Regions from separate parts of the Homo sapiens genome. Here all the other regions are linked to region 1. The links come from fine-mapping of genetic effects on gene expression. A gene starts in region 1. Each other region holds a variant in brackets. All regions are shown on one strand. Distances are between the middles of the regions.

Region 1 (4,000 bases):
ACATGCTTGCTAAATGAATAAATGAAGGCATGAAATCAACTCTGGATTTCTCAAACTTGATGCTGACATTTTGGGCTAGAGAATTTTTTTTTTTCGCACCACACGCCCAACTAATTTTTGTATTTTTAGTAGAGACAGGTTTTCACCACGTTGGCGAGACTGGTCTTGAATTCCTGACCTCAAGTGATTCGCCCGCCTCGGCCTCCCAAAGTGCTGGGATTACAGGAGTAAGCCACCGCGCCCAGCCCAGATAATTCTTTGTTGTTGAGAACTGTCCTGTGCATTACAGGACATTGAGCAGCATCCCTGGTCTATACACATTAGATGCCAATAGAACTGCCCCTCTGCAAGGCATGACAATCAAAAATGTCTCCAGACATTGCCAAATGTCTCCTGCGGGGCAAAAATCACCCCAGTTGAGAACCACTGCTTAAACGAGAAGCCTGGATACAAAGTTATTGCATAAATTAGGGACAATCATAGGTTCCGATAATGTACAAATTCACAGCAGTTATACAACTCAATTAGATTTATATGAAGAAATATATAAATTTAAAACATGCATAAATGTTTTCCAAAAAAAAAACCACCACCACAAAGCATTGATTTTGTATTTATTCTGTCTTCCTTCTAGAAGAGATTGTGGTGAGAAATTTGAAAACTATATAAACTGCTTCTCCTCCAATGAAAACTTGCCAGGAATGGGAGACCTGGTTAAGCAAATAACATGATTAACCAAAGAACCAGGTTAAAACAGAATTATCCAAAATGTCGTATATACCATATATGGCTATTCAATAATCCACAATCTCAAGGATTTAGGATTAATCTGAAATAAGAAATTTTTAAAAACAGACAATACCGTCAACTGCAAAGACATGCGGAAGTTAAAATTGAGAAGACTGCCTACTCTCAACAATCCAATTTCTTACTTTTAACAATCTAAACAAATACTTCTTATGAGAAATAAAATGCAATTCACAAATTCTGTTCTTGTCAGGCCTCTGAGCCCAAGCTAAGCCATCGCATCCCCGGTGACTTGCACATATACGCCCAGATGGCCTGAAATAACTGAAGAATCACAAAAGAAGTGAAAATGCCCTGCCCCGCCTTAACTGATGACATTCCACCACAAAAGTGAAAATGGCCGGTCCTCGCCTTAAGTGATGACATTACCTTGTAAAAGTCCTTTTCCTGGCTCATCCTGGCTCAAAAAGCTCCCCTGAGCACCTTGCCCCACTCCTGCCCGCCAGAGAACAACTCCCCTTTGACTGTAATTTTCCTTTACCTACCCAAATCCTATAAAACGGCCCCACCCCTATCTCCCTTCGCTGACTCTCTTTTCGGACTCAGCCCGCCTGCACCCAGGTGATTAAAAGCTTTTATTGCTCACACAAAGCCTGTTTGGTGGTCTCTTCACACGGACGCGCATGAAAGTTCTTGTGTGGCATACGAAATAAATTTGGGACCTCAAAATTTCCAAGACTGCAAAAATTATTTTATTCACATTTCAAATGTAAATTTCATTACACACGGTCTATTCAATTATTCGGGCCCATGAAGAAAGTGTGACTATGAAACCAAAAACAGCAGTTAATTAGAAAATCATGTTCTTGACCTTGAAGCAGATTACTTTTTAAAAATAATTATATCCTTTTTCGGTTGTTGGATAAGTAAATTAATTTTATATTCCCTGACCAAGTATCAGTAGACGCCAGGAAGAGACACCAATTCAAATAAACCAAAAGTGGAAAGCTGCGGTCACAACTCGTTCGTTTCTAGCTAAATCGTATACTTTTTAAGTGGAAATGAAGATAGTTTCGGTAGCCAGAAGCCCTAAGTTGTCACAGGTCCCAATAGGACTGCTGACCAGCTGAGCGTCCCTGAGCCAGGATCTCACGATTCAGCTAGCCGTGGGACGGGGCCGGGGGTCTGCAGCTCCAGGGTGCGCCTGGGGTCCCGCCGGGTCTGAGGAGCTCCGGCTCCCGCGCCCTCCGCCCCCACCGTCGTGAGAACAGCGCGTGGCACGAGCTCAGCAGCCAGCCCCGCCTCCGCCCGGGTCCCCGCGGTCGGAACCCAGGAAGGCCGAACCGGAACGAAGCCGCCCCTCCAGCAAGCTCGACGGACGCAGAGCAGACCCACCCGGGGTTTACCTCGGCCAGTCCCTGCGGTTCTCGGCCTCCCCCGATCAGCCATCGCAACATCCGGGCAGCGGCGGCGTCTTGCCCGGTCCAGCCCCAGTCAGCCCAAACTCCGCCCCAGGCTCGGCCTCCTCCTTCCTCCCCGGCTGCAGCGCAACTGAGACGCTAATACTTCCCGCCCCAGATCAGCCCACGGGCCGAAGGAATGCAGACCACAGTTGAGGGAGAATTTTTGTCCCCAAAGCGCTCCCGTACCCAGCCACGGAGGCTTAGTTTGGGCAGTCGCTTGGGGTGCGGCGGCCGACGGCGGGGGCGGCTGCGGCGATTGCGGGGCGCGCGCTGCTCCGAGTGAGCACGCGCGGGAGCGCCGCCGGGTAGCGCACGGAGCTTAGGTAGCTCGAGCGGCCCCTGGTGGACGCGCGCGGAGCAGCAACCCGACCCCGGCGAGCAAGCGCGCACGAAGAATAATGCCCCTCCCTGTGACATGGCTTTAGTATCCTCCACTTCCTAGGGTACCAGGAAATCTCCCCTGCTTTCCCAAGAGCTTGCTGAAGAAGGTGTACCGCAGTAGACTTCTGCATCCAGACAAATCCAGTGGCTCATGTGTACAGCCGAATAAATCCGGCCAACATTTACTGTGTGCTATAGTACAGCTACTGTGCTAAGGCTTTACATAAATCCTCATGGTAAACCTATATCCTCTATTTTACACATCAAGAAACTAAAGCTCTGAATGATTAGGTAATTTGTCTAAAGATAACAGCTAGGAAGTGGCTACATTGGTAGTGTTCTTGACCGTATGCTATATTAACATAGAATCTCCCTAAAGAATAGAAGGCAGTTCATATACCTTTTTTTGACTACTACATTTTCTTAGGTAGTCAAAGGGCTGTGGTTATCTATGCTGACTGCATATCAGAATTACCTGGGTAGCTTTTGAAAATGTAGATTCCTGGCTTCCACCTCAGACTCATTAAAATAATCTTTGTGGTTGGGACGTAGGAATCGGGGTTTTGGGAAGGCTCCTCAGGTGATTCTGATGAGTAGCAAGGTCTGAAAATCACTGGTCTAGGAACTACTTATACATATCATGTTTGCAAAAGTATAAATATATATATTTGCATATGTATTAGGTTCAAATAATCCTCCTAGCAGTAAATTGTTGTAGGGAATCTACAAATGTCCCAACTAATGCATTAATTCAGCAAACATGTATTGGACACAGATGCACTAGAGAAGCAGAAAGGAATCACATAAAATGCTGCTCTGGAGGGACAAGGCATAATGTCCCAGTCACCAATAAGAGAGAGCCATACATCCCACTTTAAGCTAAGTTGGTTGTGAGCAGCTACACAAACTTACAGTCCCTCTGGAACTCGGATCTCCTATAATTCATCTTTGTATTCCTTTTGAGTGCACTCGGCAAGAACACACTCCCAAGGATCAGGAGCATGTTGCCTTCTGTGTGCTAGCCCCAAATTGCAGTCTGCATACAGTTGAAGACAGACCAAAACAGAGACTATCCCCTGGGAAAGAGGGACTTATCTTTAAGTAAAACAAAACTCAGAGACATCAGGAGTTCAGTTCTGGAAGGAATATCTTCACGTGAGACAATGTGGTTGCCCAAATAGCCTACATTTTATTCTTCTGATTATCCACATTCTTTAGGGTTTGCCCCATGCTCTTTAGGGTTTGCCCAATGCCACATTACTCTGATGTAAGGGACATTCTGCTGATGCTTTAAAGCACTGGTCCAGGGTTGAACACTTCCTCCCTTGGTTCCTCTTAGGACAGCTAAGAAAGAATTTTTTACAAGATTAGTATATTATTGGGCACACAATGTATAAAGATGTAATTTG
Region 2 (4,153 bases), 330 kb before region 1:
TGTAGAGAAACTGATTTCTCAGAGGTTGCCTAACTTGCCGATGATGGTATAGCAATAAATCAGAACGAAGAGTTGAACCCTGGCTGTTTGACTCTGGTATCAGGGGTATTTTTCTCTGTACCTTCTTGCTATACCACTAGGCTGGTGTTATAAATTCAAGATAAGAAAAACAAAAGCCAGGTATTTTTCCCCTGGTAATTATTGTATAGATATATTATCAAGGCCAGAAGTTAAGTCCTGTGTTATTTCTCTCTGCTGTCAGCTAAGTATCATCTGTAATGACGGAAGGGAAAATGTTACATAGATAATAAAAAATGGTGGATAATAAAAATAATTGCTGCTTGGGCATTCATTATGCAATTTGGGGGGCAGCTAATTTATCTTCCTAATTATATTTTGCTTAAGCTGATTTTAAAATTAGTTTGTTTACCCTGAGCACGCACTGATTAACAGCAGAGAGAGGTGGCCCAGAAACATCTTGGGTGGTAGAGGGAAGATATTTTGAGATTCAGGGGAATTTCTGTGGATAATGTTCATGTAGCTATGGGAAGGTAGAAGGCTGATAGGTTGTTGGTGCTCTGAGTGTAATTAACTATTGTGATTTGTTGTTGGGAGAATTTAAATATAAGGCCCTAGATTGCAGACTCAGAGAGGGGAATGAACCCCAAGCTCCTTCTTGTTTATTCTTCAGTGCTGAGGAGAGTTCAGACTGTCAATGTAGGTAGATTGAAAAAGGAGATGGAGAAGGAGAGCTAGCTGGAGGTGACCCCAGGAATTTCCTTTCAATCGATACCCAAGGACGATTAAGTGCCTATTACGTACTGCTGTCTATTACATACTGTGAATTATGCCCAGAGCTGAGGATGCCAAGATGAATAAGGCCATTGTCTTACCCTGTGGAACTCCACAATCTAGTAAGGAACAGGCTTATAAACAGAGAGATCACAGCCCAGTAGAATCAGTGTTATCAAGAAAACAGGATCACAGTGAGAGCAGAGAAGAGAGAAGAGAGGGTGGCTATCACCATAGGGGAGGCAGGAAAGGAAGGAGCTCCACCCCTCACTCTTCCTCTGTTCACCCACTTTCTGGGTAGTTGGGGGAGGCAGGAATGGGGTGGGGAGGTAAGGGATGGGGTGTAGAAACCCCTTCAGGTTCAGTGTCAGCTGGCTGCTGGCTGTTTCAGCCAGTGGGAGGTGCTGGGACAGGCTGGAGGATGGGAGAAGAGGAAAGTCAGGGTAGCTCTCCCCTTTCTCTGCCTGGAGTGGCATCTTCAAAATCTTAAAAGCATATGGTCTCTCCCATGAGTCCATTTCCCACTAGACAGGTCCACTGGGGTCCAGCTTCAGCAGGGTGATCATGGCTTCTGAGCTCTGGTGACTTTCTTTAATCGCCCCTCCAGCCTCTGGGTGGTAACAGTTTTTTACTGGTGCTAAAAAACTGTCTCACTGTCTCCTGGTTGGTGACTCCATGTTTTCATCCTCTGGAAAATCAATCCCATGCATTAAATTCACTCTATTTAAATATAGTGGGTGGCTCTGATGGGTATGAAAGGCTTCCCAGGGTAACTCATACTTGAACTGTTTTTTAAAGAATAAAAAGATATTTGCTAGGTTGAGACACAGGAAGACTGTGTCTGAAACATACTTGGAGGTGTGAAACACCGGAGTGTGGGGACCCAGAAGGGACAGACATCCCAGCAGGTGAGAGCCACTAAAACATTAGAAAGGAAATACATTGTTCAGGTATTTTAGAAAACTCATTTGGCCAGCTCTGCTCTGTATAGATTAGCAAAGAAAACATGAGGGTGGCTGTGAAGACTAGTTAAGAGACAATCACAACGATTCAGGCTATAAGTCATGAGGCGAACTATATATGCACATAGAGGCGTGATGGATAAATGTGGATAGAGGACACACTCTAGCTATTATTCTCTTAACTATATCCAAGGAGAAAATATCTTATTTTCCTGGCATACAATAGGTGCTTAATAAATGCTTGCTGAATGAATTAGTAATATTCTACTAGCTTAATTTGTGTTATGAAACCTCAGTTCCCCACATGTCTTTCCCTTAACCAAAACTCTGACCTGTCCCATGGAGTCTGTTGCCTAAGGTCACCAGGTTTCTGCCTCCCTGTTTAGGACAGCATGGGGTCCTCCCACGGGTGCTCTGGCTTCCCAGCCCTGCTCTAGAGCATCCCTCTCTCTAGTTACTGACTGCCCCTCCTCCATCAGAGCCATTCAATCAGACGGTATTTACAGACACTTACATACTAATAGCTGGCACTGTGTGGGACACTTGCCACTCATTTATCTCGATCCTTGCAACCACCCAGTGAAGGGGCTACCTTTATCCTCATTTTAGAGACAAAGAAGACAGATAGAGGCAGATAACTTGTCCTGGGTCATGCAGCTAGTAAGTGGCAGAGCTGGAACTCATACCCAGGTGTATGACTCTCAAGCCCAGGTTCTGAGCCACTAGGCTAGATTGCCTGGTACTGGGTGCTGTATGTAGCTGGAGATATAAAGAAATGGAAGACAACGTGT[G/C]GGGAGAGAAAGTGTGAATGCACAAAGAATTAACTCTGATGCTAAAAATATGTAGTGATTCAAGTCAACAAATGAAAAGCTGCCACAAAGCAGAATGTCGACTGCCAGTATAAATAGGGATAAGGGGAAAGAGAGATCATCCTAGGCTGGGGTAATCAAGGGAGGCTTAAGGAAGTAGGTAGTATTTAACCTGTGGCTTTCCTGCTAGTTAAGGAGACATGCTGAATTCTTCTAAAACAATGCAAGAGCAACTGGGAGGTCACTAGCAGGCCAGTGCAAATTGCAGCAGGAAATTAAAGAAGGGAGAGATTTGTATAAACTGGAGAAGGACATCTGGTTGATTCTGGAGCTCTGAGTGCCTGTGGATGGAGCCTGGGTGGGTGGCCTGTGGGTGGAATACCTTCTACCAACTTTGCACAACCACCTGTAGCCGACTCTTTTCACACATGCACGTTCCTAGGTTGAAATAGGCTCCTTCCAGGACTCCAGGTTTTCCTCTGGGTGTGGCCTGTCCTCAGTCTTTCTTCTCACACATCACCTGTGATCCCGCGGCAGGGAAGACAGATCCCACTACACCTGAGAAAGAGGGACCATCTCTTCCAGTTCTTGGGGATAATAGAATGACAAGCAACACATGAGACTCAACATCAAGTGTACTTACTTGATGGTATACTCCTTAGGTAACACAGGGAAATGGCCCGGTGACTCCAGGAGGGAGTCAGGGAGCCTGAGCATGCAGGTGAGAGAATGCCTCCTTGCCCTCTGTGGTAACATCTCTATCTTTTAAGCATATCCATCATTCCTTCCCTTGTGGGGACTCCTGCCCTACTCTATGTGGTCTCAATGGGACTTGATTGACTATGTCGCCCTCTACCATAGGGGCAAGGATATATAACCCAGCTGGCCAATCAGACTACTCCATCCTCCTGGCCATAGCGATTGAGCCAAGCCTGGTGAATAGGTAGTGTGATGGTTAATACTGAGTGTCAACTTAATTGGATTGAAGGATACAAGTATTGATTCTGGGTGTGTCTGTGAGGGTGTTGCCAAAAGAGATTATAATTTGAGTCGGTGGGCTGCGGGAGGCAGATCCACCCTTAATCTGGTGGGCACAATCTAATCAGCTGCCAGCAGATATAAAGCAGGCAGAAAAAACGTGAAAAGGAGAGACAGGCCTAGTTTTCCAGCCTACATCTTTCTCCTGTGCTGGATGCTTCCTGCCTTTGAACCTTAGACTCCAAGTTCTTCAGTTTTGGGACTCGGACTGGCTCTCCCTACTCATTAGCTTACAGACAACCTACTGTGGGACCTTGTGATCATGTAAGTTAATATGTAATCAACTCCCGTTCATATATGTATTTGGGTTGGGGATTGGTGCGTTTGCATATATCATATTAGTTCTGTCCCTCTAGGAGAACCTTGATTACTACAGGTAGCCCCTGCTCTCCAGCAGTGCTAGTCTTGAGCTGCAGGAGAGCACCACTTAACAATGGCAGGGCCCCATGTGAGCCCACACTGGCTAATGTGCTGCAGTTGTTCAGGATTTAGCCTGGAGCCTGCCTAGGATATGAAGGGTTGGTCTCCTCTGGTCTTTTGAAGGGTGCATAT
Region 3 (4,000 bases), 72 kb before region 1:
GTTTTGTTGTATCTGAGCCATTTGCTACCAGCACACTCAAAATCTTTTCAGAGCTAGGCAAATTGGTAATAGTTGTGATCACAGGCCACTTTCTGCTGTGGCAGAAATACCATACAGTGGGCAATTCAAAAGGCTTGTTTGGCCTCTTCCTGCAGCTGATGGCCCCTGGAGAATGAATTAAGCGTCTGCTGTAACTGTGGCTCAGGTTGCCCTCCAGATAACAGACAGCACAGTAAAGCGATGCTGCATGTCCGAGGCCGCCTCTCCACATCTAGGTCAGAAGGCTCAGCTGGCTAAAAACGTTCTGAAAATCTCAAATCCCCTGACCCGACCCTCCGCACAGACAAGGATGGATGTGGGTCTCCAAGATCCAGTGGGTAATGCTCAACCTTGCCTCCCCATATCCCAGGGAAGCCTCGATCAGTTGGATGAGGTGGCAGCCCTCATTGCTGCCACAGTCCATGACGTGGATCACCCGGGAAGGACCAACTCTTTCCTCTGCAATGCAGGCAGTGAGCTTGCTGTGCTCTACAATGACACTGCTGTTCTGGAGAGTCACCACACCGCCCTGGCCTTCCAGCTCACGGTCAAGGACACCAAATGCAACATTTTCAAGAATATTGACAGGTTTGTTGTGCTGGGGCTCCTGTGCTCAAGTTTGTGAAGTTTAAGTGGTTTTCCCAAATACTTAGCTTCCTCTTAGGGGAAAGGGAAAATATTAGCTGTCCCACTGTACCAGATGATAAAATAACCTTGCCCTTAACTTAATTTGACTTTTCAGACTGCCTTTATGTTTTGAAATCTCATTTGGTCTTCAGTGAGTTCATAAAAATGTTTTATACACTGCAGAACACTACATAAATATTGATTGTACTATTACTAAGTACACCAGATATTTTTACCCTCCTACGAGGACATCCTGTCTTTTGTGTAACTCGAGGAAAATGTATCCACCCCCATTTTTCCCTAGCTCAATTTCCGGCCGCTTAAAATACTCCCTCATGAGTAGGTCCCACAGAGCGGGAGCACGAAGGGTGGGGCAGGTTACCCCAGCCCCGCATTCTCTGATGAGAGTGGGTTAGATGTGAGCAGGTCCTCTTGCCTCCCAGCACCTTGCAGTCAGGCTTGTGGGTATTTCCCACACAGCACCAGCCAGGCTGGTGCACAGATGCCTGGGAAGGGGGCAGTGTACAGAGAACATGGAGCTCACTCGGGCCTCAGGAATGCTGGTCTATGTGAACCTATTGGTTTGGTCTCCAGAAAACTGGGAAAACATGGAGATGAGTTATTCCAGCTTTGGCTTCAGCTTCATCAGTATCGAGGATGGGTTTTTAAACTTTTGCAGAAAAAATTCTTTCCAGTAGCCAATTTTATTCAAGAGCCATTCTGGCTCTTGAAGTTAGAAAACGACGACAGAATTGGATGGTTAATTTGGGGCAGGGTTGTTGCTTCATTCATTACAATTTCTATCTGCTGCAGTCTAGAGAATTACTTATTAACAGGAAAGTCTTCCAATGCCATCATTGAAAGAGGCTGTGGCCATCCTGTGCAATGGGAATCCCTGTGTTTGCACAGAGTGCAGTGGGCCAGCTTATGTGGCTGCCGTGCCAGCCTGCCATTTCCTGCCACCTTACTGTTTTGATGTTCTCAAGGGAAGGGAGAGGGGAATCACCTTGTCAGATAAACGTCCACCATGTGACAGGTACCTTCTCTCTTTTTTAAAATACTCATA[A/G]ATCACATAAGGGTCAGCTATCACTGGGGAAAATGGAATAGCATCTGCAAGTCTTGCTTACTGGGAGGACGAGCTCTTCTTGTGATCTGCACACATTTCTTAACTCTGTGCCCCAGCTTCCTCCTAGGTTGTGAGGAGTGTAGTGAAATGGTGGCAGAATAGTTATAATTTGAGACACGCTGTGAACAAGCCCCTTTGTCTTGTGGTTATTTTAGGAACCATTATCGAACGCTGCGCCAGGCTATTATTGACATGGTTTTGGCAACAGAGATGACAAAACACTTTGAACATGTGAATAAGTTTGTGAACAGCATCAACAAGCCAATGGCAGCTGAGGTGAGTACTGCTTTCCATGCCATAAGGCACATCCAAGTACATTTCCATAAGAGCCTGCTCTGGCCCTGAAGCATTTTCTCTCCCACTCAAATGTAAGGTGGTTATTTACTTGGAGTTGATAAAGGGCTGAAAGGACTGGCCACTTGTTTTCCTTGGGGATGAAAATAAACTGTGTCCACAGCAACTCTGAGCTCCTTGAAAGAAAGGCCCTGAGAAAAAGCCAGTACTGACCAGAAAAGCTTGGCCCAAAGAATATGGAAGGAGACGCAGACGAACAGAGACTGGCATAAATGGTGGTATTTTAGAGAATCCAAAGCCTTTACTTCTCTGTTCACTGAGCTCTTGGAAAACCTCAAAGTTGGAAGGTGTTTTAAAAAACAAAGAATGTTCCTGATTCACATTAAAAGCATACCAGTACCTGAAGACTATCATAAAACTGGGAGTGACTGGAAAGCAGAAGCATTTATTGTGTTTTCCTTTTTTAAAACCTACTCATGTACCTTGGACCTGCCTTAAGGTCCTTACCAATTTGGCTTTTAGGAACATGAAACAGAAGGTTCACACCTAATAAGATCCACTGTTCTCTGAAGCCATGAAGCTGTTCATAACCCCATAAAGGTAGAAAAGCTTTCCGCTCATTCCTGTTGAGCGGCAGAGGTTGGCAAACTGGATGGATGTGAATGATCATCATGAGTAACTTGCTCAGTAAGGAGATGAACTGTGTAGGACCCATCCCATGACCAGTCTGGATGGAGTGACAGTGTCTACCTCACCTATTTAAGCTCCTTCCCCCAGGGATTCCACAGCACAACACCAGAGCCCTCTCCTTCCACAGAAGACTTACAGGAGCAAGGATCTGGGGATTTAGAGAAGGAAAAGTATAGAGATTCATAGAACTAGGAAGGTCATCCACTCATGTAAGCCCCCACCTCTGCACTGCAACTTACTATTAACTGCAGTATTTATAGTAAACAGTATTACTTTGATAAGTAATCAAAAACCTCCAGAACATATTCTGCCCATTGATAGTCTAATAAATAGGTCCAGTCTTAAACCCCCCAAATGTCATGCAGCCTTTTGGCTTGGCAGAGCTCTGGAGACCTAATTGTTTTTACACAATCAATTTGATGGTGTCTTTAAAAGTGGAGAATAACAATCTTTCAGGTTCTATGTAAATGGCCTGTGATGTGTGTACCAACTCGTGTCCTGGCCACATGGCTCAGGACACTGACATCACCACTAGGTGTGGACCAGTCTTTCTAAACATGGCTGAACACACCTGCTCCTGACTACTTCCTACTCCAAGGACCCCACGCCTACCTGGCTCACTTACCAGCCAGTCAGAAGAACAGCCAAGAAAACATGAGTGGACACATGCCTTAGGAGAACCAAAGTGCGAGAGAGTTGGGTGAGTTGGGGGTGGGACAGGTCATAGGAGGGAGGGAGATGGTAGGCATAAGTAGTAGAAATCAAGAAATAATTGAAGGGTTACATGTATGTGCCACTGCCCTACCTGAAATGCATTAAAGTAGCTAAAAGCTCTGCTTTTACACATTTTTTTAAAAAAACTGGGAGAAATTTCCTCTAAGATTACATATCAAATTGCTCAAAATAAAAACAAAACTGCTGTAGCAGTTACCTCTAGGGAAGAAAATGGATGTGAGGGGTAGACAGGTGGTGACAGGGACTTTCAACTTTCAAACTCTGTGTGTGTGTGTATTGCTGAGTGTCTTTTAAGACTGTATCAGTATATTCTTTTTTTAAAGAATGTGTCAGTATATTATATATGGAATTTAAAAAAGGAAAAGCTGCCTTCGCCGAGTCCCAGTCCTACCTGTGTGCTCGGTGATCACCATCGAATGCCTGGCGAATTAACCCTTGTGGGCTTCACCGTCATCTTGAACCAAGCCTGATCTGACCATCTGTTTTCCA
Region 4 (4,000 bases), 75 kb after region 1:
GTATTTCAAACTATCTTTTCTTCTATCAAAGTAGAAACTTAGAAGGAATTTTTGAGTATTTTCCCCTTTTAAATCCCCTATAGTCAATTTATCACCAATTTCTTTTCTCTCTTTAATGTGTCATTCAAATTTAAATAGTCCTTTCTACTCCCATTGCCATGATTGTACTACAGGGCCTCATGACCTCAAGCCTGGAATGAGGCAGTGGGCTCCCAGCTCAGTACTTCTCATATCCTAGATGCAGAGCACAATAACCTGAGGGAATTTTGCAAAACCACAGATTCTCAGGCTGCCCCAGGCTTACTGAATCAGAAGACTTGGGGGATAAAGCTCTCCAGTTGATTCTCACACACAACTAGACTTGGAACCATGATTTCAATTGATTTCATGTCTACAGTCTTTCCACTTTCAACACATACAGTGCATTTAAATACCAATTTTATCATGGTGCATTTCTAATGGTGTCCTACTGCCAGGCACGTTAAGCTGAATGCCCTTTGCCAATTCCTAAAAGTCTCCATAACCTAGCCCCACCTTACTTTTTCAGATCTAATTTTTAGTCTGACAAGGACAGTCTTCTAATCTTATTCTCGTGTCAATTCCTCCATTCATTTTCCCTGAGCTGGGAGCCCCCTGAATCATTCCAACTTGAGGTCATGAGGCCCTGGACTGCAATCATGGCAATGAGAGTAGAAAGGACTATTTAGATTTGAATGACATATTAAAGAGAAAGAAATTGGTGATAGATTGACTATAAGGGATTTAAAAGGGAAAAGACTCAAAGATTCCTTCCCCATCTACCCACCAATATAAACCTCCTCCTTCCTTCAAAGATGAGCCCCATCTGACCTTCTTACCTAGTGTCCTCTAGCCATACTCTTCCCTCTACATTTTTTCCTTCTCTGCCTCCTATTGTGATTTAAGTCAGTACCATGCTGTTTTATACTTCTCCTACTACATTTTTATAAATCTTCTCTCCATAGACAGAGTGTAAATGTCATGAAAAGAAGAACCAAAAATTTGTTTTCATGTTTCTCCTGATAACATCTGAAGGTGTATTGTAGGTATTCAACACATTATTGTAATTAATTAAAACCCATTGACTTCTTACTGCATAGCAGATATATATATTGACTCATTTAATTCTCATAACAACCCTATGAGGATTTTAAAATAAAACTCCTTGTTTAGACAAGGAAATAAACATAGAGAGGTGAAATAATTTACCTCTCTATGGTCAAGACTGCTCTGGTTTGAATTTCAGTTCTTCCTCTTGTGAGCTTAATACCATTCATAAGAGGAAGCATTGAAATTCAAACCTGGGCAGTCTTTCCAAAGCTTATTGTCTTAGCTAACACACCATGGAATCATAGAACATGAGCAGCAGAAAGGGCTTATGAGGCCATCTAACTCATCTGCCTAGAACTAAGCTATTTTACTATTTACTAATCTTTATGTGTTTGTTTAGTTAAAGGCAACTGTTCTCTACTCACTGTCCTGTATGTCGTTTAGGTCTCCCTGGGTCTCTATTTATATTGATACTACATAACCTTTTAGATAACTCTTAATTTATGCATATTTGTTGCAGCGATGAGTACCTAAACCATTCTAGGACAAAAAAAGATGCAAATAAAAATTCCCCCTTACCCAAACTGTCCATTCTGAAGGCTATTAAAGCAAGCCAAGACACATATTTCATTAGAGAGTTTCCTTTTCAATATTTCTGGGCCTTTGCTGCCATTTTTTAAAGAAAGGGATTTATTTATTCAGTGAGTTTGAGGGTGTGGTGCATACATATGCACGCTTGTGTGGTGGGGG[G/A]CAGAGGGATTAAAAGAATATGCTTTTGAAAGTAGAGTGGACATCAAAATTTGTTTATGTCAGGATAATAAGTGACTTGTTTTTTATGTTGCCCACTTCTTCGGACACACAGACCTGCTATGCCTCAGGGTGCGTGAATTGACTGCAATCAAAGTCTGTGCACATGTCTGGGCCTGGGGGTCTGGTTTTCCTAACAGTCAGCATGATCTGAGGGGCACCAGAAGTCACTAGAGTTAAATGGCACTCCATGTGATGGAATGAGACACTTCTATCAGTTCATGTTAATGGGAAAAAATATGTTCCAACATTCATAGGAGAGCCAATATGGTAGTACATGAACCAACTTTCTTGTCTTGAACTACACACTGAAAATTTGAGCCCTATTAAAATGCTAAAAACAAATGAGGTAGAGCGACAGAGTCCATTGCTCTATTTACACTGATATCGGCTTCCACATACTTATTAGAGGTTCTACTAGAACAGGTAATAAGTAGCTCTAGATTTTTCATGCTTTGCAGTTTTGGAATAGCATGAATAATTGAAATCCACAGATAATACAAAAATTTAATTTTAGTCAAGGTATTAAGCCATCTCTTCCTCAATGGAGCTTTTATTATATTAGCTAACAAACAGAATAAGTGACTGGCTTGCATTTCAGCATTTAGTTTTTTCTATACATCTCCTAGCATTCTTGGGTAGGTGTCATTAAGCCACCAGAGAAAAAGATTTGCACTCTTGGCTTGTTCACTGTGATCAACTACTGCCTGTACATTTGCAAGAAGGCTGGCTGATGCTGAGGTTGAAAAAAGAGCACCACTTCCATCCTCACAGAGTTACTTGACCCATGTACATACCAACATTACAGGGTTAGTGCAAACCCCTCATTCTCAAGCAGTAGTACAAACACTGCATCAACAGAACTATTTTTAATTAGTAATAAATGTTATCTCTACAAACTAAGTACTGAAGTAAACACAATACAATTACCCTAAACCAAATAGTAAAAAAAAAAAAAAAAAAAAATTAAAACATGGAACCAATGCTATTCTGAATCACCTAAGAAACCTGTTTAAAATGAACATTCCCCAAATCTTTCTCTAGAGAGTCTGACTTAATAGGTTTGGGTCCAAGTATATGCATTTTAATAAGTAGCCCTTCTTCTTCCTTTATTCATCCTCCTACTCCTCCCGTCTCATCCCGACCCCAGCCTCATCCCACCATAGTGATTCAAGTATGAAGGGTCCATGGACCACATGTTGAAAATCAGTGCCTAGGGAATGAAAAAAAAAAAGAGTTGGATATCCCTGCCATTGGTTTCATAGCAAGAGATCTTTTTTTTTCTTGTTCCACAACCCCCAGCTGAGTTGAGTCTATATCAGCTATACTGACTTAGAGACCATGTTAAAGATCCAATACACACTTCCTCTAAAGCAAGAACTGATGAAAGTGTTTGCTTCCAGGGTATATAGAGCTTTAAGATGTAGCCTTGAGGGCTGTTTAAGGGCAGTATCAGGCTTATGGATAATGAAATGTACAAGATAGTGATACTGTCCAGCCAGAATACTATTCTGCCATGCTCTGATCCAGGCAGAGCAAACAGCTGCTGAGGCCAAACCACGACAAGGGCTATTTTTGCCTGTGACATTGGAGAATTTATTCAAGAACAGTTCCCCTTTGTGCCAGGATTTTCACTGTGCGGCTGTAAAGGTTGCTAAGTCCTTGGATCATCTGTTGTTTAAACTTTCTCAAATGTCCAAAATAACCCATTCTTCCTGAGATTATGAACCTGTATGAGAGCTCTGCTAGCTGGGAATGAAATTGCTTGTCCCTATTTCTTCTGCTCTATATACTTTGAAGAGCAGTCACTTTGCAGTAACTGTAAGTTATCTAAATAGCAACTCCTCGCACAGGTAATATGATTTGGGGGAGAAAATAATTTCCCCTAAAGGCCACATAGTTCACAAGGGTCTTTGTGATGACTAAACAATATAGTGCCCATGAAAGCATTCTGCACACTCTAAGATGCCATGGAAACACAAGAATTATTAACTAGTATGTGGTAGATAGGAGTCAAATGATAAATATCCAACCAGGAAGGTTACTGTAACACAGGAGTGAATCAACAGACTATCCTCTCCCAGAAAAGCTCTTTGTGTGTCTGGCTTCCCACACCTAATCTGGA
Region 5 (4,000 bases), 49 kb before region 1:
GTCCAGGGCATCCCAGATGATCAGCTCTCCGACGTGGGAGCCGGTGACAAAACTCAAATCTAGGCAAAGTTCACATATGCCTCATTATCGATCATTTTATCTATGTAAAGATATAACTGAATGGAATGTCTAGTAGTAATGCCGTATAAAACCACAGTAATTAGAACAGTGAGGTACCTAGGCAAGCCAACAGAAAGATTAATGTAACAGAATAAGAAGGCCAGAAATAGACTCAAATTATCTTAGTAATTTAGTATGTAATAATGATTGCATTTCATTTCAGTAAAGAAATACCTCATGCTGGAATATCTGGTTACATTTAAGGGGAATAAAAGTAAAAGAACCTTATCTTGTACCATACACCAAAATAAGTTTCAAATAGATTAAAACATGAAAGTTAGTTAAAGGATGGAAGAAGATAAAGGTGAATACTTTTAGGAATGTGGAGTGGTAAAGGGCTCTAACGGAAGCAGAGTGGGGTGCCAGGGGAAGAGATCCTAGTAAGTAGCTGCTTGGCAAAACAAAAACAAGGACCGGGCGAGGTAATCCCAGCACTTTGGGAAGCCGAGGCAGGTGGATCACCTGAGGTCAGGAGTTCGAGACCAGCCTGACCAATATGGTGAAACCCCATCTCTACTAAAAATACAAAAATTAGCCGGGCATGGTGGTGTGCACCTTAGTCCCAGCTACTTGGGAGGTTGAGACAGGAGAACTGCTTGAACCTGGGACGCAGAGGTCGCAGTGAGCTGAGATCGCGCCACTGCACTCCAGCCTGGGCAATAGAGCGAGACTCAGTCTAAAACACACACACACACACACAAATACACTGAAATGACAAAAAGCTGGGAAAAATTTGCAACTTGGATGACAAAACAGGTTTATTATACTTGATACATAAGGAGTTCTTGGAAATTATTAAGAACAAGATAAATACAGCAGAAAAAAAAATGGGAAAAGGACCTGAAAAGGCAAAACAAATACAAATGGTCAGTAAACGTGAAAAGATGTTCAACTCCTTTAATAATCAAAGAAATCTAAAAACAAGGAGATACCATTTATTGACTTGTGAATCAGGAAATATAAAACAGGAAAATACCCAACACAGTACTGGCAAAAGCATAAGAAATCAGCACATTCCTGTATTGCCTAATGCCCTACTATACATTAGTATTTTTTTCAAAGATTAATTTGCTAATATGTATCAAAACCTTGAAAAATGTAAATCTCGATCCAACAATTCCACTTCTAGGAATTTATCCTGAAGGAAATACATAAATGTACAAGGTTGTTACATACATATATGTACAAATACACAATCTTAAAAATCTGAAGATAACTACACATCGAATTGAGAATTGAATAAGACATCAACAAAATGAAATAGTAATGCTGTTATTAAAAATTAAGTTATAAAAGTATGCTTAACAATATAAACTTAGATATGGAAATATATTTATGACATATTGTTACAAAACAGTAAACCATATTAATACACATGTACACACATACATAGGCCCAGAAAATCACCTAGAAAGATGTGGACTGGTGTTTAATACTGGATAGTGGAAAGATTTTAATATTAACTTTTATATTTTTAATGTTTTTCACTATTTTCATATTTTTCTACTATGACTATGTATAACTTTTACAAGTTTTTAAAACCTTTAAAAAAAGCCGGGTGCGGTGGCTCACACCTGTAATCCCAGCACTTTGGGAGGCCGAGGCAGGTGGATCACGAGGTCTGGAGATCGAGACCATCCTGGCTAAAACGGTGAAACCCTGTCTCCACTAAAAATACAAAAAATTAGGTGGGCGTGGTGGTGGGCGCCTGTAGTCCCAGCTACTCGGGAGGCTGAGGCAGGAGAATGACGTGAACCCGGGAGGCGGAGCTTGCAGTAAGCCGAGATCGCGCCACTGCCCTCCAGCCTGGGCGACAGAGCGAGACTCTGTCTCCCCAAAAAAAAAAAAAAAAAAAGGATTTTTTTCCATTTTACATATTATTTATTTTACACACTATATATTTAATAGAAAATGTACAACTGCTAGTCTTATTTCAAATAAATGTAATTTATTTAAATTATTACATATTTAGGGTAAGACAGAAGACTATAATGCACTTAGTCTAGAAACCCAAGTTCTGATTTTGGCTCTGCCTGTTGCTAGACAGGTGGTCTTTAGGAAGTAGTTTAACCTTTATCTTGGATTC[T/C]TCATGCATTAAATGAGTGACTAAAAATCAAATTGAATAATAAACGTGTAGCCATTTTAAAAAGACATCAAATATTATCTTTGCGCCCCTGGTAGTATTTTGAGCCCCTGGTATTATTCCACATTAATCGTATTAAAACATCCTGTTACTTGTTAATTTAGGAATATACAGATGAGTAATTATGATTTAATTATTTCATTTATCAAATAAACCAGCACGACAGAAATCTCTAATGACCACATGAACAATCTCTTAAGAGATACAGAATTACCAGCAATCCTACATGTAAATATTATTTGTCTTGACTCCAAGGCCATAATAGGTAGATTATTAATATCTAATTTCTATAGTTTATTAACAGACTCTATAGAACTTGCTCTGTGGAGAAATCACTTCTCATCTGTGGAGCAAAACGGGCTTCTAGTTTTAGTAGTGGGAAAGTTAAGGCAGTACTCATCTTCCCAGGACCTTCTTTCCCACACCTTTCCCTCCTTTTTCCTATTTCATTCAAACTACAAAAGAACCAGAGAAGCTAAGGAGTGAAGATTCCCCTTGACTCTCACTCTGCATCTGTAGTCACAACACAGAATTAACCTACTGAGACCATGCAGCTGCTTGCTCTGACTTAATCCTCCAAGTGTCTGTGATACCTCCATGCAGTAGAAACAAAATATTAATGACCAGTTGGAATTTTCCCTAAAAATAAAATACGGCATTCAGCTCAATCAGCACTTTTTTTTTTTTTTTTTTTTTTTTGAAATGAAGTCTCACTCTGTCACCCAGGCTGGAGTACAGTAACACAATCTTGGCTCCCTGTAACCTCCACCTCCCAAGTTCAAGCAATTCCTGTCTCAGCCTCCTGTGTAGCTGGGACTACAGGCATGTGACACCACACCTGGCTAATTTTTGTATTTTTAGTAGTGACGGGTTTCGCCATGTTGGCCAGGCTGGTCTCAAACTCCTGACCTCAGGTGATCCACCCACCTCAAGCTCCCAAAGTGCTGGGATTACAGGCGTGAGTCACTGCACCTGGCCAATCAGCACATATTTTTAAGCAGTTTACACATGGCAAACTAATTCCCAAACAGGTCATTCAAAATGTTTCATGACAAACAACCTCAATTATATATTATTAGTGGATGGATTTTCATCCTGTGTCAAAAGCCACTTAGTATGAAAATCTCACCTGGTATCTGTCTATCCATCCCTCACAAGTACTAGTACTTCATGATTACCAAAAGATGCTGGCAACATAATACAAGAAAAGGAATAAAATAAAGGAGCACCCAGAGCCTTCTGCCTGGAGAGATTATCAGTTATTTTTTGTCTGTCTTAGAAAACCTTCTGCCTGGGCATTCCAATCTTTTTAGCAAATCTGGTATTCATTATCCACACTTGTTGGTATTCTCTCATACAATTCTAAGGTTGCCCTGGGGCCACCCCTCTGAAAACAGATTTGCCCTGTGATGTACAATCCCAAGCAACTGGCCATATCTTTCATTGGTAATGGGTGAGGAGAAAGGAGCAGAGCTCCTGCAAGTGAAGCAGGGAACTGTACAACATAAACATTTCAGGATCACTGACATCCACATCATGGCTAACGTGCCTATGTACTGCAAGATGAGACTGTCAGCAGATCATTTTCAAATTTTAACAGACTACTTGGTCATGTTTGATTCCTAAATACGCCTTTGGCTTATTTATTATCTGTAGTATAATTTTATAGTCATAGAGTTTATAAAGTAAAAAGTACTAATCCAAAAGCTAGAAGAAGACAAGAAATAACTAAGATCA
Region 6 (4,000 bases), 270 kb before region 1:
TCTGACGTCAGAACCACAAATAGCATTAAAGCTCCGGAACTGGAAGGTGATGACAAGGGTTCAGGATAGCCAGAGCTTTTGTCCACTCCAGGGTTCCTGCTGAGGGAGCTTCAAACGAGAGCAATGACCAAATGGAGAGACAAATACATTTATGAAGGCCAGTGATGACCCAACAATCCACACCTCAGCCACTAGTGGTCCTGGGGCCTTGTGGGACATACTCATTTTCAGCTTAAAAAATGGATTGACAGTCTTGGCCGAGAAATGGGGTCTCTGCAAGGAAACAAAAGCCACCAATAGTGTTTGGAGCTGAGCCTTAGTTGGAACTAGAAGTCTCTTTCCCCCACAGTCGAGAGTGTGATGCTCAAAAGAAGGATGGCCAAATAAAGACTGAAGGGAGCAAGGATCAGCTTAGTCTGTGCCTGTGCAAGCATTGGGTGGATACAACCTTTCATCCCAGATCCATCTGTCATGTGCAGCCTCAGACACACACATGCATGCACGTGCACACACCTGCTCTAGGAAGTGTTGCTGGGACAGAACACCTAGGCGGGTAAGTTTTCAGGAGACTTCCTGCTCTCCCCCTCCCACATCTATAATGCTGGGTCTGTGAAGCCAGTTTCAGGACCCCTCCTCACCCAGTAGACTCTTGCAGGTCCTCCTGTCCTTGTGGTTGCTGCCCTGCCCTTCTTCTCAGTCACATGTGGAGCCCAGGGTGAGGTCTCTGACACCCAGGCTGTTCTCTGCAGTGATCTGGCCCATTAGGACTGTCAAACCCTGGGACTGGCTGACTGACTGTGGAGCCTTCATCCCTTGGGAGGAACAGGTGAGGGCAAGGGAGTGTGATCCACTTAGCCTGATCTCCCTACGGGCAGTGGTAGAGGGGAGTTTTGCAGACTTTGTTGAGATTTTCAAGAAGGGACAAGGAGGTGGGGCAAAAGGTTGGAATCTCTTATTATATCAAAGGTGAGAACTTTGAATCCTAAAACACAACCAGGAAATGCTTTGGATGAACGTGAAAGGCAGTGTTCACTTTTATATGCAGACTATATGACAAACATTAGTTTGTAAGGCACCTAGTTGTTATTGGGGAAAGACTTTCATATAGAAACATGTTATATGTGGCATTTAGGTTTCTAGGTTAGCACAAAAAAGTTTTAGCCCATTATGTAGCTGGAATATATTTACACTGTTGAAACAATATTGCTGTGAAAGAAACATAAAATTGAATTAGAACTCCCATTTCTTTTGTATGGGTGTCCTTTGGGAGAAGCGGGTTTAATTAGAGGCTGATGAAGCAGATGAGGGAGAATTCGTGAAGTTCCTTTAGGGAGTAGTTATCTTTAGTGATCCATTGTGTGCTGGGGAGCTGAGGGGCTCAGGTGGTGTTATTAACCTCACATTGCTAGGGAGGAAGTGGAGGCACAGGCGGCTCAAGTAGCTTGACCAAGGTCACACAGCTAGGGACTCAGAGCTACATCTGCTCAACCGTCCTGTTTTCACTGTCCTATTTTATCTCCAGGTAAAAA[G/C]GGGTGTGTCGAGCTTCTTTGTGGCACTTATTTTCTGTTTCATCTACAGATAGCTCAGTTGGTATCTTTTAACTAGAACTGTTTTTAAAAATAAATCATAAAACCATTATATACCAAAAATATGACAACTTAATATCAATCACACTTTTCTAATTGTCTTACTACTTATTCTTTTACTGTTTGTTGGTATCCAAACAGTAACTCCACTCATTGCAGTAGGTTGCTATGCCTCTTAAGTCTCTTTTAATCTGTAGCTTCCCCTTCCAGTCTCTCTTTTCTATATACTTGCAGTTTGTTTGTTGAGGAACCTGGGTTGTTTGTCCTGTAGATTTTCCCCCAATCTAAAGTTTACTTATTGCATTCCCATGATGCATCTAACATGTTTCCCTGCCTTCTGTGTTTGCTAGAAACCGTAGTTTGATTTAGAGGTTTGATTGGATTATACTAAGTTTTGTAGGGTGGAGGTTGTCTCTTTTCTGTGATGCTAACAGAAAATCGGAGTATGCGAAGTTTTGTAGGATGTTTGGTTGTCTCTTTTCTGTGATGCTAACTCTTATTAACGATCATTGCTTATATCCATTAGTCATTAGAGGTTGTAAAATGGTGATATGCTATCATTTTGTCTTCATGTATTCATTGGAATGCCTCAAGAAACTTTTTTCAAGAGTTGACTCCCTAGCATTCTCCTAAGGTGACAGGAGTTCTTTGCCTGTTAATTTGCTTAGTATCATTATGAATCGTTATGGGTTTATGTGTATTTGATGTGTTGATGCATTGCAGTTATTAAACCTATTTGTGCTTAGACTGCCCAGTTTTGACTGAAGGGAGCTTATTCAAGTTGGTGAGGCACTTTTCTTGAAGAAACAGTTCTAGCTAAGTTGAGTGTGTCCTTATTCGAAACTCATTGTTTGTAGATGGGGACTCCACTGACCACCCTGGGGGTGGAGGCACATCCTGGTGTCCACCTAGCCCTCTCTAGTCATGCCAAGGCCCCAAACATCATGGAGCTTTTGAAAGGAGGCATTTCACAAGGCCCCCTTGCAGCTCCTTTGCTATAATTTTTGTGGCTGCAAAAGGGTAACCTGGTGTGAAGGAAAGGTGCTCACTGACTCCAGCTTGAATTCCAGCTCTGCCCTGTACAAACTTTGTGACTTTGGAGAAGCTGCATGATTTCTCCTTGCACGGTAGGGATAATGCATCTCTAAAAGGATTGGTACAACCTAGAGGTACAGTCCCTGTAAACCCGCTAGGTTCTCAAGTACGTGTGTGTGTATTTTCTGCCTTATACTAAGGCGCTACTCTAGGTTTGGAGTGATAAAAAAAATGAATATGATGGCCGGGCATGGTGGCTCATGCCTGTAAACCCAGCACTTTGGGAGGCTGAGGCGGGTGGATCACGAGGTCAGGAGTTCGAGACTATCCTGACCAACATGGTGAAACCCCATCTCTCCTAAAAATACAAAAATTAGCTGGGCGTGGTGGCTTGCACCTGTAATCCCAGTTACTCAGGAGGCTGAGACAGGAGGATTACTTGAATCTGGGAGGCAGCCTGGGTGACAGAGTGGAGACTCCATCTCAAAAAACAGAATATGACATAGTTCCACGTTTCGGGAGCTTCCATTGTTTGTGCCCTATATTGTCGTCTTCTGTGGGAAGGCAATGTGTTGACTGAGTGCCGGCTGGCTGGCAGGAGTTACGGATTGGGAATTGGGTTCTTCCAGGTGAGACACTCCTACTGGGAGAGCATGAAGAACTGTGAGCCTGAGGGGTAAGTCAGCTGAAGACTGTAAGGAAAAGCCAAGGAGCAGACAACTGTACGGCCACAGGCAGGGGCCAGAGGCAGAATTAAGGTCAGGCTTTCTAAGCCTGGAGCTCAAAGCTGCCAGACATAAATAGGATCCAAGAGAACTGATTAAGAAGGACTCTAAAGTCTGGTGGAGTTGATGGCTGAGAATACTCTTGGGTGTTATGGTTCAGAGACTGCCAGATAAGGCTTGCTTTGGGTTGAAGCTCTAAAGCAGCATTACCCAATAGAAATAAAATGTGACCCAGATGTAACCTGCACATGTAATTGTAAAATTTTTTATGAATCACATTTTTAAAAGTCAAAATAAGCAGGTAAATTAATTTTAGTACATGTTCACTTAACCAGTATATTAAAAATATTATTTTGACATGTACTCAATATAAAATTTGTTAATGAGATAGTTTACATTCTTTCTTTTTTTATTTTATTATTATTATACTTTAAGTTTTAGGGTACATGTGCACAATGTGCAGGTTAGTTACATACGTATACATGTGCCATGCTGGTGTGCTGCACCCATTAACTCGTCATTTAGCATTAGGTATATCTCCTAATGCTATCCCTCCCCCCTCCCCCCACCCATTCTTTCTTTTTTTTTGGAACTAAGTTCTTAAAGTCTGGAATGTATTTTACAATTACACTGCATCTCAGTAGGGACTACCCA
Region 7 (4,000 bases), 38 kb after region 1:
GAAGAAATAATGTCAATCTTACATAACACTTCCAGAAAATAGGAAAATGAAGACTATCATTCAACTTCTTCTGTGAGCCTAAAATAAGCTTAATAGCAAAGCCTGACAAGAACATTTTGAAAAAGAAAAATTACTAGCCAACCTCATTCATGTACATAATTTAGAAATGCCAAACATAAAATATTAGCAAGTAAAATTCAACAACACATGGAAAGAATAACATAATATGAGCAAGGCATGTTTACTACAGAAATGCAAGGCTGTACTAACACACTAAAACCAATCCATAAAATTCAGAGCATTAACACAATAAAAGAGAAAAATCATATTATCATTTTGATAGAGAAAAATTACCTGACAAAATTCGATATCTCATCATTATTTTTTTAAAAAAGAACTTTCAGCAAACTACAATTAGAAGTGAACTTGCTTAATCTGATAAAGATTATTTATTTAAAAACCTATAGCATTATACTTAATGAAATATTGATAGCTTTCCCTCAAAATGTAGAATGAGATAAGAATGCCCACTGTCATTTCTTCTATCAACTTTGTACTGAACTTTGTACTGTACCAGTACAATAAGGCAAGAAAAAAATTAAAATGTATAAGAATTGGAAAGAAAGAGATAAAACTGTCATATTCATAGCTGACATGTATAATGGCATACATATAAAATACAAAATAATCTACAGAAAAAATATTAGATATCAAAAGCAATTTTAGTAAAGTTGCTGACTACAAAGTCAATAAACAAAATCAATTTATTTCTATATACCAACAACAAATAAACAAATAGACACTTTAAGATGCCATTTATAAAGAACATCAAAAAAAGCAAACAAGAATAAATCTAAAAACTTGTAAACCTCTACACAGAGAAACGCTAAACTATTACTGATAAAAAAAACTTTAAAGGTTTAAATAAATGGAGAGATACACCACGTTCATGGATTCAGAGGCTCAAAATTATAAAGATGTCAATTCTCCCCCAAACTGATACAGAGAAACAATAAAACCACAATCAAAACCCCAAATTTTCTTAAAACTTTACGAGTTGATTATAATATTTTAATGAAAATGCAAAGTGCCAAGATTAGCCAAGACAATCTTGGAAAAGAACAACAAAGTGAGAAGACTTGCTTTATCATATATCAAAATTTATTATAAACCTACAGAATTAAGTCAATGTGGTATTGGTATGAAGACAGACCAACAGATCAATGAGAGAAAATGGAGAGTTAAGAAGCAAATCCAGGCATAAATGAATACATGGTTTATGAAAAATAGCAGCTCATAGAATGGTGGGGAAATAGTGATCTTTAAAAGATAAATGGTTCTGGAAAAATTGTATATTCATATGGAAAAAATAAATTTTTGCTGCTTCTTTATACGATGTACCAAAATTAGTTTCAAGTGATTTGTAGACCTAAGCACAAAAAACAAAACAAATAAATATTTTAGTTGGCAGCATGGGATAATATTAGTTTGGAAAACACTAACCATAGAAATGACTGATACATCTTACATATGTGTCATAAAGGCTTCT[C/A]TCAAGATACAGAAAGGAATAAAGCAATAAGAAAAAGCCAGTCACATACAAAATGAGAGAGAAAGAAAGATGCTCAACATCATTAGTCATCAATGCAAAATTAAAACCACGATAAGAGACCATGACATGTCCACCAGAATGGCGAATATTAAAAAGACCACCAACCTCAAATATTGGCAAGAATGTAGAGCAAACAAAACTCTCATTCATTTTTGCTAGGAAAATGGTACCCCTATCCTATTACCCAACAATTCTACTACTAAGTGTTTACCCAGGAGAAATGAAAACATATATCCAGAAAAAGACTTGGACAAGAATGTTGATTGCATCTTTATTAATAAGAGCCCTGGACTGGAAATAACCCAGGTGTCCAACAATAGAAGAATAGACAAACATCTTTATAAAATGAATTACCACTTATCACTAAGAAAAATCAAACTACTGATATAATCAACAGTATGGATGAACTAAAAAAATTATACTGGGTGAAATAAGCCTTACACAAAAAAGAATATACTGAACAAGTCTATTTATATGAAGTTCTAGAATAGGCAAAACTAATCTATAGTGGAAAAAAACTTCCTCTACTCTTGGGAGTTTGGGAAAATTCATGGAGGAATATCCTTGCATAGTGATAATGTTTTATCTTGATATAGGTTTGGGATATATGGTCATATGTAGCTGTCAAAACCTAGAAAATGAACAATTAAGATTTATGCATTTCATTATATGTAAAATTTACATTAAAAAATTAACTGTAAACAAATATTGAATTCTATTTAATGATATGTATGCTGAAAAATTTAGAAGAAAGTGATTGAAGAACTCTGTTTTGAAATGTATCAAAAAGGTAAGATGGATTGATGAATGGGTAGAAATATAATAAAACAAGCACAGTTAAATGTTAATGGTACAAGAACTGGTGCTGAGACAACTGGATACTCACATGCAAAAAAAATGAACTTGCACCCTTACCTCGCTTGTTATACAAAAATTAACTCAAAATGTATCAATCACCTAAATATAAGAACTAAAACTATAAAACTCTTAGGAAAAAACAGGGGTAAATCTTCATGACCTCAGATTTAGCAATGGATTTCTAGATATAAAACCAAAAGTACAAATAACAGCAACACAAATAGGTAAATTGGGCTTCATCAAAATTTAAAACTTTTGTGCATCAAAAGGCATTAAAAAGAAAGTAAAAAGACAACATACAGAATGGGAAATAACATTTACAAATTGTATATCTGAAAAGGGTCTCACATCCAGAATATAGAAAGAGCTCTTACAACTCAACAACAAAATGACAAACAACCCAATTTAAAAATGGGCAAAGGACTTGAATAAACGTTTTTCCAAGGAAAATATATAAATGGCCAACAAGCACATGAAAAGATGCTCAACATCATTAGTGAAACACAAATCAAAACCACAATAAGATATCACTTTGCGCCCACTAAGATGGCTATAACCAAGAAAGACAGACAATAACAAGTGTTGGTGAGGATGTGAAGAAATAGGAACCCTTGTACATTGGTAGTGGGAATGTTCAGCTGCTGTGGAAAACAGTTGGTGGTTCCTTAGAAAGTTAAACATAGAATTACCATATGCCCCCACAATTCATTTGTACTCAAAAAAAGTAAAAACAGGTACTCATACGAATATTTGTACATAGCAGCATTATTCAAAATAGCCTAAATGTGGTCTATACATGGTCATAGCAGCATTATTCACAATAGCTCAAATGTATTGTTCAGTCATAAAAAGGAATTAAATACTGATACATGCAACAAGGTGGATGAATCTTGAAAACATTATGCTAAGTAAAAGAAGCCAGACACAAAAGGTCGCATATTATATGACTCCATTCATATAAAATATCCAAAAGAGGTTAATCCATAAAAACAGAAAGGAGATCAGTAGTTGCCAGGGACTAGGGGGAGGGAAGAATGGGATTAACTGCATAATAGTTATAGAGTTTTATTTTGAGATGATGAAAACATTTTAGAACTAGATAGAGATAGTGGTTGTACAATATTGTGAATGACTACTTGTGAATGTCACTTTATTGTTCACTTTAAAATGATTACTTTTACATTATGTAAATTTCAACTCAATTTTAAAAATTTAAAAATGGAACAAGGGAGAGGATTTAGAAGGTTCTAAATGCTAAAAGAAGTTAATGATAGAATTCAGGTAGTGCGTATACAGGTGTTCACTGAAATCTTTCAATTTTGCTGTATGTTTGAAATTTTTTATGATGAAAGTTCAGGGGGAAAAATGGACAATAACAAGTATAGTGCAACTTAAAATAGCAGGAACTCTCAAATGCTGCTAGTGGAGATGGAAATTAATACAACCACTTTGGAAACCTGTTAGTCATTATTCACTGAAGTTGAATATCTTGATATTTTACAATCCAGCAATCCTTCTTGTAGGTATATATCC

Direction of the effects. Positions count from the first base shown, and alleles are read on the strand shown. Sizes are in standard deviations (SD) of each study's normalised expression. Not every link is listed here.
For the expression in monocytes after interferon gamma of the gene that starts at base 2,300 in region 1, allele T in region 5 goes with a lower level than allele C (large effect, 1.5 SD a copy in Fairfax 2014).

The links. PIP is the estimated chance that this variant, and not a neighbour inherited with it, causes the effect. A credible set is the group of variants that fine-mapping cannot tell apart.
Region 2: its variant is the best candidate, but not a certain one, in a credible set for the expression of WDR41 in subcutaneous fat (FUSION, PIP 0.87).
Region 3: its variant is the best candidate, but not a certain one, in a credible set for the expression of WDR41 in whole blood (INTERVAL, PIP 0.72).
Region 4: its variant is the best candidate, but not a certain one, in a credible set for the expression of WDR41 in cerebellum (GTEx, PIP 0.84).
Region 5: its variant is the best candidate, but not a certain one, in a credible set for the expression of WDR41 in monocytes after interferon gamma (Fairfax 2014, PIP 0.68).
Region 6: its variant is the best candidate, but not a certain one, in a credible set for the expression of WDR41 in fibroblasts (GTEx, PIP 0.80).
Region 7: its variant is the best candidate, but not a certain one, in a credible set for the expression of WDR41 in monocytes (Fairfax 2014, PIP 0.63).

What each region holds. Positions count from the first base shown.
Region 1 is chr5:77,490,017-77,494,016 of GRCh38, forward strand. It overlaps WDR41 (WD repeat domain 41), which reads right to left and starts at 2,300. Exons shown (of 13, transcript NM_018268.4): 1 at 2,154-2,300. The coding sequence starts at 2,204. RefSeq lists an enhancer at 1,762-2,685 and silencers at 1,806-2,025, 2,466-2,605.
Region 2 is chr5:77,155,692-77,159,844 of GRCh38, forward strand. It overlaps a transcript of PDE8B not described here. Among named protein-coding and RNA genes, the nearest start is that of PDE8B, 53 kb to the right of the region's middle. The variant G/C (reference allele first, on the strand shown) is at 2,546.
Region 3 is chr5:77,417,820-77,421,819 of GRCh38, forward strand. It overlaps PDE8B (phosphodiesterase 8B), which reads left to right. Exons shown (of 22, transcript NM_003719.5): 18 at 410-627; 19 at 1,948-2,068. Among named protein-coding and RNA genes, the nearest start is that of WDR41, 72 kb to the right of the region's middle. The variant A/G (reference allele first, on the strand shown) is at 1,733.
Region 4 is chr5:77,564,844-77,568,843 of GRCh38, forward strand. It overlaps a transcript of WDR41 not described here. Among named protein-coding and RNA genes, the nearest start is that of OTP-AS1, 63 kb to the right of the region's middle. The variant G/A (reference allele first, on the strand shown) is at 1,819.
Region 5 is chr5:77,440,939-77,444,938 of GRCh38, forward strand. WDR41 (WD repeat domain 41) reads right to left here. Exons shown (of 13, transcript NM_018268.4): 9 at 1-59. Among named protein-coding and RNA genes, the nearest start is that of WDR41, 49 kb to the right of the region's middle. The variant T/C (reference allele first, on the strand shown) is at 2,207.
Region 6 is chr5:77,219,479-77,223,478 of GRCh38, forward strand. The region is part of intron 1 of PDE8B (phosphodiesterase 8B); the gene reads left to right. Among named protein-coding and RNA genes, the nearest start is that of PDE8B, 11 kb to the left of the region's middle. The variant G/C (reference allele first, on the strand shown) is at 1,530.
Region 7 is chr5:77,528,458-77,532,457 of GRCh38, forward strand. It overlaps a transcript of WDR41 not described here. Among named protein-coding and RNA genes, the nearest start is that of WDR41, 38 kb to the left of the region's middle. The variant C/A (reference allele first, on the strand shown) is at 1,550.